Linked DNA regions of Homo sapiens: region 1 is linked to region 2. A link means that fine-mapping ties the variant in region 2 to the expression of a gene that starts in the linked region. Tissue or cell type: whole blood. Region 2 holds a variant in brackets; the other region holds the start of a gene. All regions are shown on one strand. Distances are between the middles of the regions.

What was found. PIP is the estimated chance that this variant, and not a neighbour inherited with it, causes the effect.
Region 1: RYR1 starts here. The variant in region 2 is fine-mapped to the expression of RYR1 in whole blood (TOPMed, PIP 0.94).

What each region holds. Positions count from the first base shown.
Region 1 is chr19:38,430,574-38,438,674 of GRCh38, reverse strand. RYR1 (ryanodine receptor 1) reads right to left here and starts at 4,984. Exons shown (of 106, transcript NM_000540.3): 1 at 4,801-4,984. The coding sequence starts at 4,845. RefSeq lists an enhancer at 3,655-4,230 and a silencer at 4,962-5,101.
Region 2 is chr19:38,542,572-38,550,672 of GRCh38, reverse strand. RYR1 (ryanodine receptor 1) reads right to left here. Exons shown (of 106, transcript NM_000540.3): 85 at 7,238-7,326; 86 at 7,013-7,141; 87 at 6,798-6,902; 88 at 4,147-4,228; 89 at 2,253-2,440. Among named protein-coding and RNA genes, the nearest start is that of MAP4K1-AS1, 50 kb to the left of the region's middle. RefSeq lists enhancers at 5,981-6,070, 6,421-6,480. The variant T/G (reference allele first, on the strand shown) is at 4,897.

The DNA.
Region 1 (8,101 bases), 110 kb after region 2:
TGAACTCGAGCCTGGGTGACAGAGCGAGACTCCATCTCAAAAAAAAAAAAAAAAAAAAGACTAGCCTGGGCAATATACATAATGAGACCCCCATCTCTACAAAAGTTAAAAATTAAAAATTAGCCGAGCATGGTGGTATGTTCCTGTAGTCCCTGCTACTCGGGAGGCTGAGGTGGGAGGACTGCCAAGCCTGGGAAATCGAGGCTGCAGTGAGTCATAATCAAGCCCCACCTCCCTGGGGCCCCTGAGACAGATTGAGACCATGTCTCAAAAGGAAAAAAAAAAAATCACGGCCCTCAGGGAGCTTAAATCCTCATGGTGGAGACAGGGAATAAACAGGTGAATTAATATGTAATGTTAATGTCAGTGATAGGTGTTATAGAAAAAATAACCCAGGCTGATGTAAGAGAGTGGCTTTTAGGATGGGGATGAGATCAGTGAGGGAGTGAAGTGACAGCCTCTCCAAGGAGGTGACATTTGAGTTGAGCCTTGTCCAAATAACAAGAAGGAATCAGGCCTGCTCATCTCTGGGGTAAGAGGAGGGAGTCTGGGTGCTGGGGTGTTGAGGGACAGCACAGGAGATGGAGCAGGATGGTGGCCGCAAGGAGGAGGGGCAAACAGGGAGGAGATGAGGTCAGAGAGATACTTGCATGGGCCCCTTGAAAAATAACTTTTTTTTTTTTTTTAAGAGACTGGGTCTCACTCTGTCTCCTGGGGTGGAGTGCAGTGGTACGATCATAGCTCACTGCAGCCTTGGACTCCTAGGCTGAGTGATCCTCTCCATTCAGCCTCCTGAGAAGCTATGACTGCAGGCTCATGCCACCACACCCAGCTAATTTAAGATATATATATTTTTGTAGACACAGGGTCTTGCTCTGTTGCCCAGACTGGAGTGCAGTGGCGAGATCACAGCTCACTGCAGCTTCCGACTCCTGGTTTCAAGTGATCTTCCCACCTCAGCCTCCCAAGTAGCTGGTACTACAGGTGCACACTGCCACGCCCAGCTAAAGTTTAACATTTTTTGTAAAGACAAGGTCTCCCTATGTTGCCCAGGCTGTTTTTGAACTCCCGGCCTCAAGCAATCGTCCTGCTTCAGCCTCCCAAAGCGAAGGGATTACAGGTGTGAGCCATGGGGTCTGGCTATTGTATATAATCTTGTCCCCATTTTCCAGATGAGAACACTGAGGCTCAGAGAGAAAAATAAAAATCACTTGCCCCAAATTAGGAAGCAGGCAAATGGCAAAGCCAGAGTGCAAAGCAGCGACAGAGAGCCCAATCATTACCACATTGATTCTCAAACTTTTCCTGAATTAGAATGAAGGCAGGCTGGGCGAGGTGGCTCATTCCTGTAATCCCAGCACTTTGGGAGGCCAAGGTGGGCGCATCACTTGAGGTCAGGAGTTCGAGACCAGCCTGGCCAACATGGTGAAACCCCATCTCTATTAAAAGTACAAAAATTAGCCGGGCGTAGTGGTGCATGCCTGTAATCCCAGCTACTCGGGAGGCTGAGACAGGAGAATCGCTTGAACCCAGGAGGCGGAGGTTGCAGTGAGCCGAGATTGTGCCATTGCACTCCAGCCTGGGCTACAAAGGAAGACTCCATCTTAAAAAAAAAAGAAAAAGAAAAAAAAAATGAAGGAAGCGGAGGGTTCTGGTTAAAAATATAGCTTCCCTGCTGGCCCAGTCCCCTACCACCATCAAGAGCCTGATTTGGGGTCAGCAGGGAATACGTACTGTTTACCAGACCCCAGGAGCTTCTAACTTGGGCCAGGGTTTGAGAAACCCCAGCCTGGGTAAGGGTAGAGGTCACCACCCACCAAAGGGAAGTGAAATCAGTTTGGGGGGGCTGTGGCCATCATACTTAACCAAACGAAGCAAAATGGAGCAAGAATAGAAAATCACAGCGTGCCCATCATGCTTCAGGGGCCATCTACATTTTATGAGACTTGTTTCAGTTAAAAATAGGTACAAGTGAATGGTCACAGGCCCTGTGTTGTCTATAATAGTAAAAATTGGAGACGACTCAAATGTCCATCAGCAGGTGAACTGATAAACACACCACAGTATAGTCGCACAATGGAATAATATTCGGCAACAAAAAGCAACAAACTCAATACATGCTACATGGATGAATGTCAAAAATATTATGCTGAGTGAAAGAAGAAAGGCCGGGCATGGTGGCTTATGCCTGTAATCCCAAAACTTTGGGAGGCCAAGGCCGGAGGATTTCTTGAGCCCAGGAGTTTGACACCAGCCTGGGCAATATAGTGAGACCTCACCTCTACAAAAAATTTTACAAATTAGCCAAGCATGGTGCTATGCACGTGTAGTCCCAGCTACTCAGGAGGCTGAGGTGGGAGGATCACTGGAGCCTGGGAAGTGGAGGTTGCGTTGAACCAACCACCAAACTGCTGTACTCCAGCCTGGGCAACAGATTGAGACTCTGTCTCAAAAAGAAAAAAAAAGGCCGGGCGTGGTGGCTCACACCTGTAATCCCAGCACCTTGGGAGGCCAAGATGGGTGGATCATCTGAGGTCAGGAGTTCAAGACCAGCCTGGCCAACATGGTGAAACCCCATCTCTACTAAAAATACAAAAAATTAGCTCGGCTTGGTGGCACGCGCCTGTAATCCCAGCTACTCAGGAGGCTGAGGCAGAAGAATCGCTTGAACCCAGGAGGCAGAGGTTGCAGTGAGCTGCGATCACGCCATTGCACTCCAGTCTGGGCAACAAGAGTGAAACTCCATCTCAAAAAAATAAATAAATAAACAAAAACAAAACAACTCATTGAACACATAAACTGGGTAAAATTTATTGCAGGTCAATTATACCTCAATAAAGTTGGTTTTTAGTCATGTCTATGCATGTGTGCATGTACTGAGTTGTAAGACAGAATGTTTCTTATGGGCGGGATGTGGTCCAGAAGGTTTTTTGTTCTGAGATGGAGTCTCGCCCTGTCGCCCAGGCTGGAGTGTGCAGTGGCGCAATCTCGGCTCACTGCAACCTCTGCCTCCCAGGTTCAAGCAATCCTCCCACTTCAGCCTCCCGAGTAGCTAAGATTACAGGCATGCACCACCACGCCTGGCTAATATTTTTTTGTATTTTTAGTAGAGACGGGGTTTCACCATGTTGGCCAGGCTGGTCTCAAACTCCTGACCTCAAGTGATCCGCTCACCTTGGCCTCCCAAAGTGCTGAGATTACAGGCATGAGCCACTGAGCCCAGCCTCCAGAAAGTTTTGAGAAATCCACCACGACCTCAGTAACAATCAGAAAAACTGACCCAGTCTGGGGTGGAGAGATTCCAGGGCCAAGCCTCCAGAACCCTAACGCTGACTACTTTGGCAAGTCTGGGCCCAGATTTTCTCTGGTGAAGGCAATGGGGCTGGGCACCAGGGGCATCCAGAGATGCCACTTCCTGGCCTTGACCTTGGGTGAGTGATTCTACCATTCGGGCCTTGGTTTCCCTCAAATCTGTCAGGGAGATAAAGATAGGACCCTACCTCAGAAGACAGGGCAGCAAGGATATAATTAGATGTCTCAGGAGGCAGAGGCCCAGGGCACAGGGCCTGGTTTAGAGCGACAGCTCAAGAGCCAGTGGCCATGGCCATGGTCTTATTAGGGCTGGGGAGGGCCCGACCCATGGTGTCTGCTGAGGGGCTGGGGCTGGGGAGAGAGTCTCGGCTGAAGCTAGGCCCCTTCCCAGCTGTCCCCATCCTTCACTACCAGCCCCAGCTGTTTGTTCCTCTCTCCCAGGAAACCGGACCCGGCTCGCCAGGGTCCTATTCTGGGGCAGGAATGCTGTGTCAGCATTTCCTGTGTGGCTCCAGGGCCCCGGGGGGAGGGGCGGGGCTAGCGTCTGGTCAGCAGACCTAGCCCAGAGGAGAGGACGTCCCCTCCCATATTTACGACCCCACACCCTGCGGAGCCACTGGGAGGGGAAGATGGGAAGGACAAGGAGATGGCAGCCCCTCCTCCCTCTCATCCCCTCCCCATCCCCTGCCCAGGCCCCAGAAAAGCCGGCTATTCTGGGAGGGACACCTGTTGTTCCAATTCCCATCCCTGCCCCCAGCTGGGGCTCAGATGCAGGGAGTAACCCAGCTAGAGAGACAGCGAAAATCAGAGGGCCTTAAGCTAAGAAACAGAGACAGGGAGACTGAGATGGAGGAAGAGACAGAGACATGGAGACACCCAAAGAGACAGATGGGGAGAGACACCACCCAGAGACCCTGCAAGACCATTAGCAGCCATTGGGAGCAGCCCTCCTGCCCAAAACGAAGAAGGAAAGAAAGACCCAGAACCCAAGAGATCCCTCCCCCACAAGACCCTCAAGGGCTAGGAGTTGGAAGCAGCTGTGTCCTCCAGCTCACTCCAGCTCCCTTCTCAAGAATTTAAATAGGTCAGAGTCTGGAGCAAAAAGAGAATTAGGGCTAAGGTGGGGGTGGGGGGATGGCTAAATCAAGCCCAGGAATTAGAACCACCTTCCCCAAGTGCCTGCTTCCAAGATGGTGTGAGGGTGTGCTCCCTCGGGGGTCCTTCTTGTGGGGGACAAATCGCTAAAGTCAGAAGAGAGGGCAACCGAAGATCCCTTTCCCATTCTGGAGTCCCCAATCCTACTAATTCTCTGTAGTGAGAAAGGTGAAGGAGACTAAAAGACAGAGTGACAGTCACTCAAAGTGACATAGGAAGAGACCTCGAGTCTCAGAGACCACCAGCAAGCCGGACAGGGACATTCAGAGACAGAGAGACCCTCAGAGAGCCCCAAGAGATAGCCCCACAGGCCCCTAACCCAGAGATACGCACCGTCCGCAGGAACTGGACCTCGTCTTCGCCTTCTGCGTCACCCATGATGTCGAGGTCGGAAGCCCAGGGTCTGAGGTCGGGGAACAGAGGGAGGGGGCTGCGGGCTGGGCGGGAGGGCTGGGGGCGGGCTGGGGTCGGAGACCTCTGGAGACACCAGAGGCACCCGCGAGGTAGATGGAACTGCGAGGAGTACACGCATGCTGGACAGAGATGGGAGGAAGTCCCCGCCCCCGGGCCCCATTGGACCAGGACTCCCCGGCCACTCCCCTTCGCCGGAGCCCTGCCCACATACCCCAAATCTTGGCTGGAGGTTTGCTTGGCCGTTGGCCGCCGGAGGTGGGGTGGGAGAGAGAGTATCTAGGAGGTACCTGCGCTTTCTCCCCACCACGGTAAGTAACGTGCCATCATTCTCCCATTTCACAGAGGGCAGACTGAGGCTCTGAGTGGGGAAGTTCTTGCAAGATATCACGCAGCAGAGCAGGGATGTGCACCAGATCTCCTGACTTTAAAAAGCACCAAACATAGTGATTAAGAACAAGGACTCCGGCCGGGAGTGGTGGCTCACCCCTGTAATCTCAGCACTTTGGGACGCCGAGGTGGGTGGATCACTTGAGGTCAGGAGTTCGAGGCCAGCCTGGCCAACATGGTGAAACCCCCGTCTCTACTAAAAGTACAAAAATTAGCCAGGCGTGGTGACACATGCTTGTAATCCCAGCCACTTGGGAAACTGAGGCAGGAGAATTGCTTGAACTCCTTGAATTCGGGAGGCAGAAGCTGCAGTGAGCCGAGATTGAGCCACTGCACTCCAGCCTGGGCGAGACTTCGTCTGAAAAAAAAAAAAAAAAGAACAAGGACTCCGACTCCAAGCCAGATAATCTGGATCTGAATCCCACCCAGCCTTGCCACTTCCTTGAGTTACATGGATAAGCCACTTAGCTTCTCTGTGCCTCGGTTTCCCCATCCAGTAAGGGGAATATTAATAGTACCGACCTCACGTGGTTGTTGGGAGAGTTAAATGAGATAATTAATTAAATGAGATAAAACTTAAAACAGTGCCAGTGCCTGGTTAATGTAATGTAAGTGTTGCTATTATTATTATTTATTTATTTATTTATTTATTTTGAGACGGACTCTTGCTCTTGTTGCCCAGACTGGAGTGCAGTGGCAAGATCTTGACTCACTGCAACCTCCACCTCCCAGGTTCAAACGATTCTCCTCCTCAGCCTCCTGAGTAGCTGGGATTACAGGCACCTGCCAACACACCCGGCTAATTTTTGTATTTTTGGTAGAGACGGGGTTTCACCATGTTGGCCAGGCTGGTCTCGAACTCCTGACCTCATGATTCGCCCACCTCAGCCTCCCAAAGTGCTGGGATTACAGGTGTAAACCACCACGTCCAGCCCTATTAAAATTATTACTAGGCCAGACACAGTGGCTCATGCCTGTAATCCCAGCACGTTGGGAGGCCAAGGCAGACAGATCACTTGAAGCCAGGAATTTGAGACCAGCTTGGTCAACATGGTGAAACTCTGACTCTACTAAAAACACAGAAATTAGCTGGGCATGGTGTCACACGACTCTAATCCCAGCTACTTGGGAGGCTGAGGAACAAGAATCATTTAAGCCCAGGAGGCAGAGGTTGTAGTGAGCCGAGATTGTACCACTACACTCCAGCCCAGGTGACAGAGCAAGGCTCCACCTCAAAAAAAAAAAAAAAAATTTTTTTTATTAACATGTAGTGGTATACAGTAAGTTATATAAAACAATATCCCATAGTTAAACAAAATTACATAGAAACCGTTCTTCAAGGTATAGCAGGTTTCTAGGTGTTCCATAATTAAATACTGATGTTAACACAACTGCAATAAATAGCACAAAAGTTTGTGTCATATTATGGAATTATATAATTTGGCATTATATAATGTATAATTATATAATTATATATTTAGGCTAATATAATTATACAGTACAATACAATTCTATGTTGTATCTGTTATACATTATCCAACGCATAGTTGTATATTAAATATTGTTTTTCCCTAAAACTTTATGTAAATGTAAAATGATTCTGTGTCATTGAGCATTATATCATAAGATATTAATAGTGTTTCTTATTTTTGTCAGTCATCATTATGTGTTTTAAGACCTACCCTTGTTGCTCTGTGGACACCTGGTGTGTGACAGTGGTGGCTTTGCAGGATTCTCTGGTGACTGATCCCTTCTGTTTTTCCACCTACCCCTACTGGGAGCGGACACCCAGGCTGCCTCCAGCTCTCCCGAAATAATGCTGGAGGGAACATCTGTGTATTGGTCCCCCAGGAAGCTGAGGGAGAATGTTTTATTGTGCGTACCCAGAAGCTAATTGCTGGGTGACATATCCATGCGCACCATTTGTGTAAGTAGTGCTGGGTAGCCCTCGGAATGGCTACTCACTACCAGTGCATGAGGGTCCCCGGGTCCCCATATCCCCAACCCTCATGTGGCATTTCCAACTTAACTAATTTTTGCCAGATTTATATAGGGTGACTCACTGTTTTTTAATTTATTTTCTCTATTTTATTTTTAGAGATGAGATCTCACTTTGTTGCCCAGGCTGGGGTGCAGTGGCGCAATTATGGTTCACTGCTGCCCGGAACTCCTGGGCTCAAGGGATCCTCCCACCTCAACCTCCCGAGCAGCTGGGACAACAGGCTTGTGCCACCACGCCCAACTAACTTTTAAATTTTTTATAGAGGTGGGGTCTTACTATATTGCCCAGGCTGGTATTGAACTGCTGGTCTCAAGTGATCCTCCTACCTCAGCTTCCCAAAGTGTTAGGATTACAGGCAAGAGCCACCGCGCCTGGACTCGCTGTCATTTTAATTTCCACTTCCCTGATGAGTTACCAACAATTTCTAGCATCTTCTCAAGTGCCTATCAGAGTTTTGGGTTTCTTTGTTATCTGCTCATTGTGATCCCTGCTCACTTTTTTTTGTTTTTTTTTTTTGAGACAGAGTCTTGCTCTGTCGCCCAGGCTGGAGTTCAGTGGCACCATCTCGGCTCACTGCAACCTCCGCCTCCTGGGTTCAAGCAATTCTCCTGCCTCAGCACCCCCAGGACTACAGGCGCATACTGCCACACCTGGCTAATTTCTTTTGTATTTTAGTAGAGATCGGGTTTCACTGTGTTGCCCAGGCTGGTCTCGAACTCCTGAGCTCAGCCAATCCGCCTGCCTTGGCCTCCCAAAGTGCTAGGATTGCAGGCGTGAGCCACTGTGCCCAGCCTAATTTTTGTATTTTGAGTAGAGACGGGGTTTCGCCAT
Region 2 (8,101 bases):
CAGGTGCAGTGACTCACACCTGTAATCCCAGCACTTTGGGTGGCTGAGGCAGGAGGATCGCCTGAGCCCAGGGGGTCAAGGATGCAGTGAGCTAGGATTGTTTGACTGCACTCCAGCCGGGGCAATAGAGCAAGACTCTGACTCTAAAAACAAATAAATAAGAAAATAAACAGTAATGGGATGAAACCACATGTGCCTCCTAATACATTACACTGAGGACACATCACTTCTCTGATATTCCTGCAAAAGATGCATAACCCTAGTCTGATAATGATGAAAACTCAGACAAACCCACACTGAACGACATTTTACAAAACAGTTTGCCTGCGTTCTTCAAACATGTCAGGAAAGATAAAGACAGACCCAGGCACAGTTCCAGACTGAAGGAGGAAAACAGACAGAACACCTAAATACAATCCCTGGTTCTGGGTTGGCAAAGAAAAGACATTGACGAAAGAAATTTATTCAACAAGGGAAACTGAATAAGGTCTAGGATTAGATAGCAGCATTGTGCCAATGTTAATTTCCTGATTAGCATAATTGTCCTGTGCTTAGGTAGGAGAATGAATTTGTTCTCAGGAGATACACGCTGAAGTGTTTCAAAGTAAAGGGAAATTGGCTAGGCGAGGTGGTTCATGCTTGTAATCCCAGCACTTTGGGAGGCCGAGGCAGGCAGATCACTTGAGGCCAGGAGTTCAAGACCAGCCTGGCCAACATGGTGAAATCCCATCTCTACTAAAAATACAACACACACACACACACACACACACACACACACACACACACACACACACACAAATTTAGCTGGGCATGGTGGTGCGTGCCTGTAATCCCAGCTACTCAGGAGGCTGAGGCAGGAGAATCGCTTGAACCCAGGAGGCGGAGGTTGCACTGAGCTGAGATTGCACCACTGCACTCCAGCCTGGGCAACAAGAGCAAAACTCCGTCTCAAAAAAAAAAAAAAAAAAAAAAAAGGAAAGGAAAGGGAAATCATGATGGAGTAAATAGTAAATAGAAAACATTTGGGCAATGTGGGTGAAAGGTATTCAGAAATTCTATGTGCTGTTCTTGCAACGTCTCTATAAACCTGAAGTTATTTCAAAATAAAAAGTTAACAAAATGGTAACATTAAAGATCAGGGAGTAGTAATAGCAGCTAACATCTCTTGAGGACTCACCATATTCCAGGTACTGCCCGCACTGCCCATCCTCACAATAGTTAATAGTTGTTTTATTTTTATTTTTATAGATACAGGGTTTCACTAGGTTGCCCAGGCTGATCTCGAACTCTTGGGCTCAAGCGATCCTCCCACCTCGGCCTCCCAAATTGCTGGGATTATAGGCATGAACCACCGCACACTGCCAATAGTTAGTGGTTAATGTGATTATCCTATCCCCATTTTACAGAGTAGGAAACTGAGGCTCAGAAGAAAAGATGGAGAGTTAGGATGGGAGAGGTGGTTAGAGGAGGAGGAGTGGGTTTCTGAATAAGGATGTTCCAGCACTTCCCTCCTAGCAGGCTCATTATTTAGACTTGGAATGGTCTAGTTAGTGACTGCCTCCCCCATTAGACTATAAACCCATGAAAGCACGGGCTGTGTCTATCTTGGTCATTGATGCGTCAATAGTGTCACTACAGGCCCTACACAGAGAAGAAAGCCAGCCAATGTTTATTGATGGAATAACTGATGCCTATTCACAATAATGATAATGTTATGACTATCAATAAAGATAACAGTAATAACGGTTCTCATCTGTGTTAATGCATTTCATCCTCAAAATAACCCAAGGGGGCTGAGCGAGGTGGCTCATGCCTATAATCCCAGCACTTTGGGAGGCCAAGGTAGGAGAATTGTTGGAGCCCAAGAGTTCAAGAGGAGCCTGGGTAATGTAGTGAGACCACATCTCTACAAAAAATAAACTTAAAAATTAGCCAGGCATGATGTCACACACCCGTCGTCCCAACTACTCAGGAGGCTGAGGTGGGAGGATTGCTTAAGCCAGGAGGTCAAGGCTGCAGTGAGCTATGATCACGCCACTGCACTCCAGCCTGGGCAACAGAGAAAGACCTTGTCTCTAAAATGAAATAAAACAGAATACATATAACCCAAGGACTGTTTTATCCTCATTTTACAAACAAGGAAAGTGAGGCTTGCAGAGATGTCTCTTGCCTGAGGCAGCCAGCCAGAAGGGTATGGCTGGCCCTTGGCAACCCCACCCAAGTCCTGGGCCCACACGATGTCCCACACCCACCTTCTGGAAGTCCTTCTTGGAGATGAGGCCACGGGGATCCGTTACGTAGTCCTGGAAGGCTTCAGAGCCCACAATGTCCTTGAGTTTCAGGAACATGTCGAAGAACTTGAGGATCATCTCCACATTGGATGAGGATTCCACGAGCATGTCCACCATCTGCCGGGCGATCATGCCGTTCACCACGTTCCCTGCAGGCAGCCCCAGGTCAGTGTGGCCGGTGAACACTCCCTTCTGGGGCCCCACCAGGCTTGCCTCTCTTTCCAGCCCAGGAGCCACCACGCTGCTGGAGTGTCCCTGGCCAGCCACAGCCTCCCCTCCACAGGTCCCTTCCTGACCTGCGTCAGCCTCCTGTGCCAACCTGGCTGATCCTGCCTTTGCCCACCTCCCCCAGTAAAGCTAATGATGTCAGGTCGGACGTGGTGGCTCACGCCTGTAATCCCAGCACTTTGGGAGACCGAGGTGGGTGGATCACTTGAGGCCAGGAGTTTGAGACCAGCCTGGCCAACATGGTGAAACCCCGTCTCTATTAAAAATACAAAATCAGCTGGGCGTGGTGGCATGTGCTTGTATTTCCAGCTACTTGGGAGGCTGAGGCACGAGAATTGCTTGAACCTGGGAGGCGGAGGTTGCAGAGCCGAGATCGTGCCACTGCACTCCAGCCTGGGTGATGGAGTGAGACTCTGTCTCAAAAAAAAAAAAAAAGATAATGATGATGTACGCTAAAGGTAGGTGCCAAATGCTACCCTGGCACAATCACACAAAAAGGGAAGTGTGTGACTCTACTTTTAGGAAGAGAAACTGAGACATAGAGAAAGTCATGCACTCAAAGTTACATAGCCAGTAAAGTGGGGAGAATGGATTTGAACTCAGAGCTGCATGACCTCAGGGCTTACACAACTAAAACTTCCACCAGTACACACAGTCAGGAGGGTCCACAGAAGACTGAGGCTAGCCAGTGGTAAGCAGCAAGGAGAGGTAGAGATTGGCAAACTGCGATCCCACACTCCCTCTAAAGGCAGCAGCTGAAGCTTGGCTCCAGTTTATTTTTGTAATTTTTAAATTTTAATGTAGGCTGGGCGCAGTGGCTCAAGTCTGTAATCCCAGCACTTTGGGAGGCTGAGGCGGGAGGATCACGAAGTCAGGAGATCCAGACCATCCTGACCAACATGGTGAAACCCCGTCTCTACTAAAAATACAAAAAAAAAAAAAAAAAAATTAGCCAGGTGTGGTGGCGGGCGCCTGTAGTCCCAGCTACCGGGGAGGCCAAGCAGGAGAATGGCGTGAACCTGGGAGGCGGAGCTTGCAGTGAGCCGAGATCGCGCCACCGCACCTCCAGCCTGAGCGGCAGAGCGAGACTCCGTCTCAGAAAAGAAAAAAAAAAAAAAGGGATCCTAATATATCCACATTCATCAATTGTTTATCTTTTGCCACATTTGGACATTTGGTTTGTTTTTGGGGTTTGTTTTTTTGAGACAGGGTCTTGCTCTGTCACCCAGGCTGGAGTGCAGTGGTGTGATCACAGCTCACTGCAGCCTGGACCTCCCGGGCTCTGGTGATCCTCCCACCTCAGCCTCCCGAGTAGCTGGGTCTACAGGCACACACCACCACACTAGGCTAATTTTTGTATTTTTAGTAGAGACAGGGTCTCACCATGTTGCCCAGGCTGGTCTCAAACTCCTGACTTCAGGTGATCTTCCCACCTCGGCCTCCCAAAGTGCTGGGATTACAGGTGTAGCCACCGCATCTGGCCTATTATGGCTTCTTCATCAACCCATGGATCCTGACACGATGTCAGATGGGGTTGAGGATTAGGGTCTCCCGGGTCTCAGGGGGCCATTCTCAGGCTTCTCTGAACCTCTTTACTGTTCCCTCACCCTCACTCCTGGGTGTTTACCTTCTAGTAGCGACAGCAACATCACCACCATGTCCTTCTGCAGATCCAGCAGCTCCTTCAGCAGCTCGATCTGGCTTGAGTCCTAGAGATCCCAGCTCGGTGAGGGCTGGTCTCAGCATACACCTCCCCCACCTCTGTTGCTTCTCCCCCTCCTCACCTACCCAGCAGGGCCTAAACCCGTTTTCTCCCCTCTTACCTCCGAGGGGACCCGAGTCCAGACATGTTCCTCGGAAGCAGGGGAAGGGGCAGAGAGACAAGATTGTGGGGGTGGGGTTGGCACTTGGGGGACGGGCTCGATAGGTGATGGGTAGTGGGAAGGCTGGCAGACAAGGAGGACTGAGAGGCTTGCGGGGCAGACATTTGGGGCAGAGAGAGACAGAGACAGACAGAGACAAACACTGGGGACAGAGACCCAGGTCTAGGAAGGGATGTGAGCCCAGCACTGTGCCTGGCCTACGGTGGGATTGACAGATGTATGTTGAATATAATGTGTGATGGCAAGAGTGGGACTCTGGGTTCAGGAGGAAGGCTGCAGAGACAGCCATGTGCTTTCTGGTAAGCCGTCTGCGGGGAACATAGGGCCACAGTGTAGGGCCCATAGAAACCTCCAATACAAAGTTTTGCCTCATGGCCCCTATTTATGTTAGGTTGAGTCACATAAAATTGCCAACATGTGATCACTTTTGGCTCACAAAGTGGTAATTTCTTTCTTTTTGAGACAGAGTTTTGCTCTTGTTGCCCAGGCCGGAA[T/G]GTAATGGCGCAATCTCGGCTCACTGCAACTTCTGCCTCCCAGGTTCAAGCAATTCCCCTGCCTAAGCCTCTCGAGTAGCTGGATTACAGGCATGCGCCACCATACCCAGCTAATTTTTTACTTTTAACAGAGATGGGGTTTCTCCATGTTGGTGAGGCTGGTCTCGAACTCCTGACCTCAGGTGATCTGCCCGCCTAGGGCTCCCAGAGTGCTGGGATTACAGGTATGAGCCACCGTGCCAGATCCAAAGTGGTAATTTCATATGGTTCCACCAAATAAAATGGAGAGGGGAGGAGATGATACCAGATAAATGGGATGTAAGGATCTTTTGCTCCCATGCTAGTTCTATCAGTTGTTGATTCCAATCCTAATGTATTTCCACAGTTCCAAAGCTCTGCATTCTGCGCCTAAGGTCCCGACACTCCTAATCTCAAGATCTTACAGTGGGTGGGCGCCTGTGGTTTGTGCCTACCCATGATTCAGTCCCCCTCCTCTCTTTACAATCCCTCAATTTTCACCTGCGGAGTCCCCCATCCCACAGTCAGAGCACATGGGGCTAACCCTACCTCCTGGTTCTATAGGTGGGTATATGACCGGGCCTGGTCAGTCAAAGCTTTCTTTCCTAAGCCTATGATGATTGGTTCAGGGAGGGACATGTGACCCAATAGGCTAGTCAGAGAGAATCTCAGGTTTTTTTTTTTCTTGGAGCTTTCAGGAAAGAGGAGATCTCTTCCCTCTAGGGCTGTTAAGAAGTAGAGTGGATAGGAGCCTGAGGCACCATTTTTTCCAGCCCAGGGAGACAGCCTGCTTGCAAATGCAGTCAAAGAGGAGGCAGTTCTGCTGACATCACTCTAAGCCCTGGATCTGTAATATGAACTGATAAATTCTTTATTTTTCTTAAGCCACCACTTTGCACTGGATTTCTAGCTTTTGCAACCTAGACTAGATGGTGGCGGATGAATTAGCCCTGCAGGATTTGGAATTCTACATGATGATACCAACACTCTCTAGAATTTTAGGATACCAACAGCACAACTTCAGCTGCTGTGACACGGAGGAATTGCATTCTAAGTTTAACTCCTTTTAAAAAGTCAGATGACAACGAATTAGGGTTTCTGCCAGCCCCTGGGGCACCTTTGAGCAAATTAGAAAAAAAGGCGTCCCCTAAAACACTTCCTGTAGGGAAGTTATAACATGCTGGATGCTTTACTGCCATCTGCTGGAAAACTAAACTATTGTAATAAATACACCATTATGTGTAGGATGTGAATGCTCTCAGAGATCGTGCCTTTGTGCAGTGCACGACCTGCGGAACAGTATATGGCAGCCTTGAATATAGTTACCAGACAGAAGCAGAGCAAATGGATTAAGTGTTCGTGAGACATTGGCAAGGCTGCAAAGGGGTGAGGGAAAGAGGAACAAGGATTATGGAAATGGAAGGTGGTGCTCAACAGGGACCTTACATCATGAATGCCTGATATGGGTGTCATCTGCCGCAAGTAAGATAAAGAAGCAAAACATTTCCTCAGCCCCAGGCTCTAATCTAGAAACCAGCCCCATCCTAGCCCAAGGACTGTCCACATCTGCGATGACTCATCAGAGAGAAAAACAGCAATCAATCATAGAGGAGCTCCGGCCATTGGGACGGGGCCAACACGTCAGACCAATGGAAGCGTGGATGGAAAACCAGCTGATTGGTGGGGAGGGAGGGGCAGAGGAGGAGGCGGGGTCATGCAGACAGCCAATCCAGAAAGAGGATGGATTTGGCCACTGAGAGGGAACCAGTCTGGAACATGCCGGGAGCACTCGGGTGACAAACTGACCAAAGGGGCAAGACTTGGAAATGGACCACTTGGGGGACGCCCGGAAGCAGGTGGATGGAGACCAGAGGGGCTCGAACCTGAGCGAGCTTCATCATCATGTGGGCGAACACGTGCAGGAATCCCACCACTGCGTCCCATAGGCGACTGTGCGCCAGGCTCTGCTGGTTCCCGGTGCAGGGACCCTGGGAGGCAGAGTGCCGTGTGGGGGGGAAGGGAATCCCCGAGAAGGGATCAGGGATCACGATGCGGGACCCCCTCCCTTCCCACTCCCGCCCCAGGGGGAGCGCCCTACCTGGATGTACTCAGTGAGGCTGTTGAACACCTGCTTAGCCACCGACATGGCTTTGGAGAAGTTCCTCTTGCCCTGCTCTTCAATGACATCCTTGCCCGAGTAGTACCAGTAGAAGTCGCTGATGGATTCCTGGTGGGGGCGGGTAGGGTGTGAGGGGGTGCTGGGGCCGACCATGGCCCTGCAGCCCCCGACCCAAGTCACACCTGAACCGTCTCACGTCCTCACCTGCAGCCGCAGGAGGTAGTCCACAGTGCAAATGATGATGTTAATAGTGGTCGTGTTCCCTGTCTGTGTCCGTAGGTAGTTCTGGAAATCTGGGGAGATGAAAAGTCATTTATCCAGCACCTCCCATGTGCTAGGGGAGATGAACAGTGGGTCATTTATTCATTTATGCAATACTCATGTGTTGAGTTCCTATTGTATGCCAGAAAGCATATCATCATCAATTTATTTAATAACTATCAAGTACTTACTATGTGACAGAGAAAGATGGATGATCATTTATTCATTTGTCTAAAAATACTGGCCGGGTGGCTCACGCCTGTAATTCCAGCACTTTGGGAGGCCCAGGCAGGCAGATCACCTGAGGTCAGGAGTTTGAGACCAGCCTGACCAACATGGTGAAACCCCGTCTCTACTAAAAATACAAAAATTAGCTGGGTGTGGTGGTGGGCACCTGCAATCCTAACTACTTGGGAGGCTGAGGCAGGAGAATCGCTTCAACCCCGGAGGCAGAGGTTGCAGTGAGTGGAGATCTCACCATTGCAGTCCAGCCTGGGCAACAAGATGGAAACCCCGTCTCAAAAATAAATAAATAAATAAATAAATAATTTTAAAATAGGCTGGGAGCGGTGGCTCACACCTGTAATCCCAGCACTTTGGGAGGCCCAGGTGGGTGGATCACTTGAGGTCAGGAGTTTGAGACCAGCCTGGCCAACATGGTGAAATCCCGTCTCTACTAAAAAAAATACAAAATTAGCCAGGTGTGGTGGCATGTGCCTGTAATCCCAGCTACCTGGGAGGCTGAGGCAGGAGAATTGCTTGAACCCGGAAGGCAGAGGTTGCAGTGAGCCTAGATCATGCCACTGC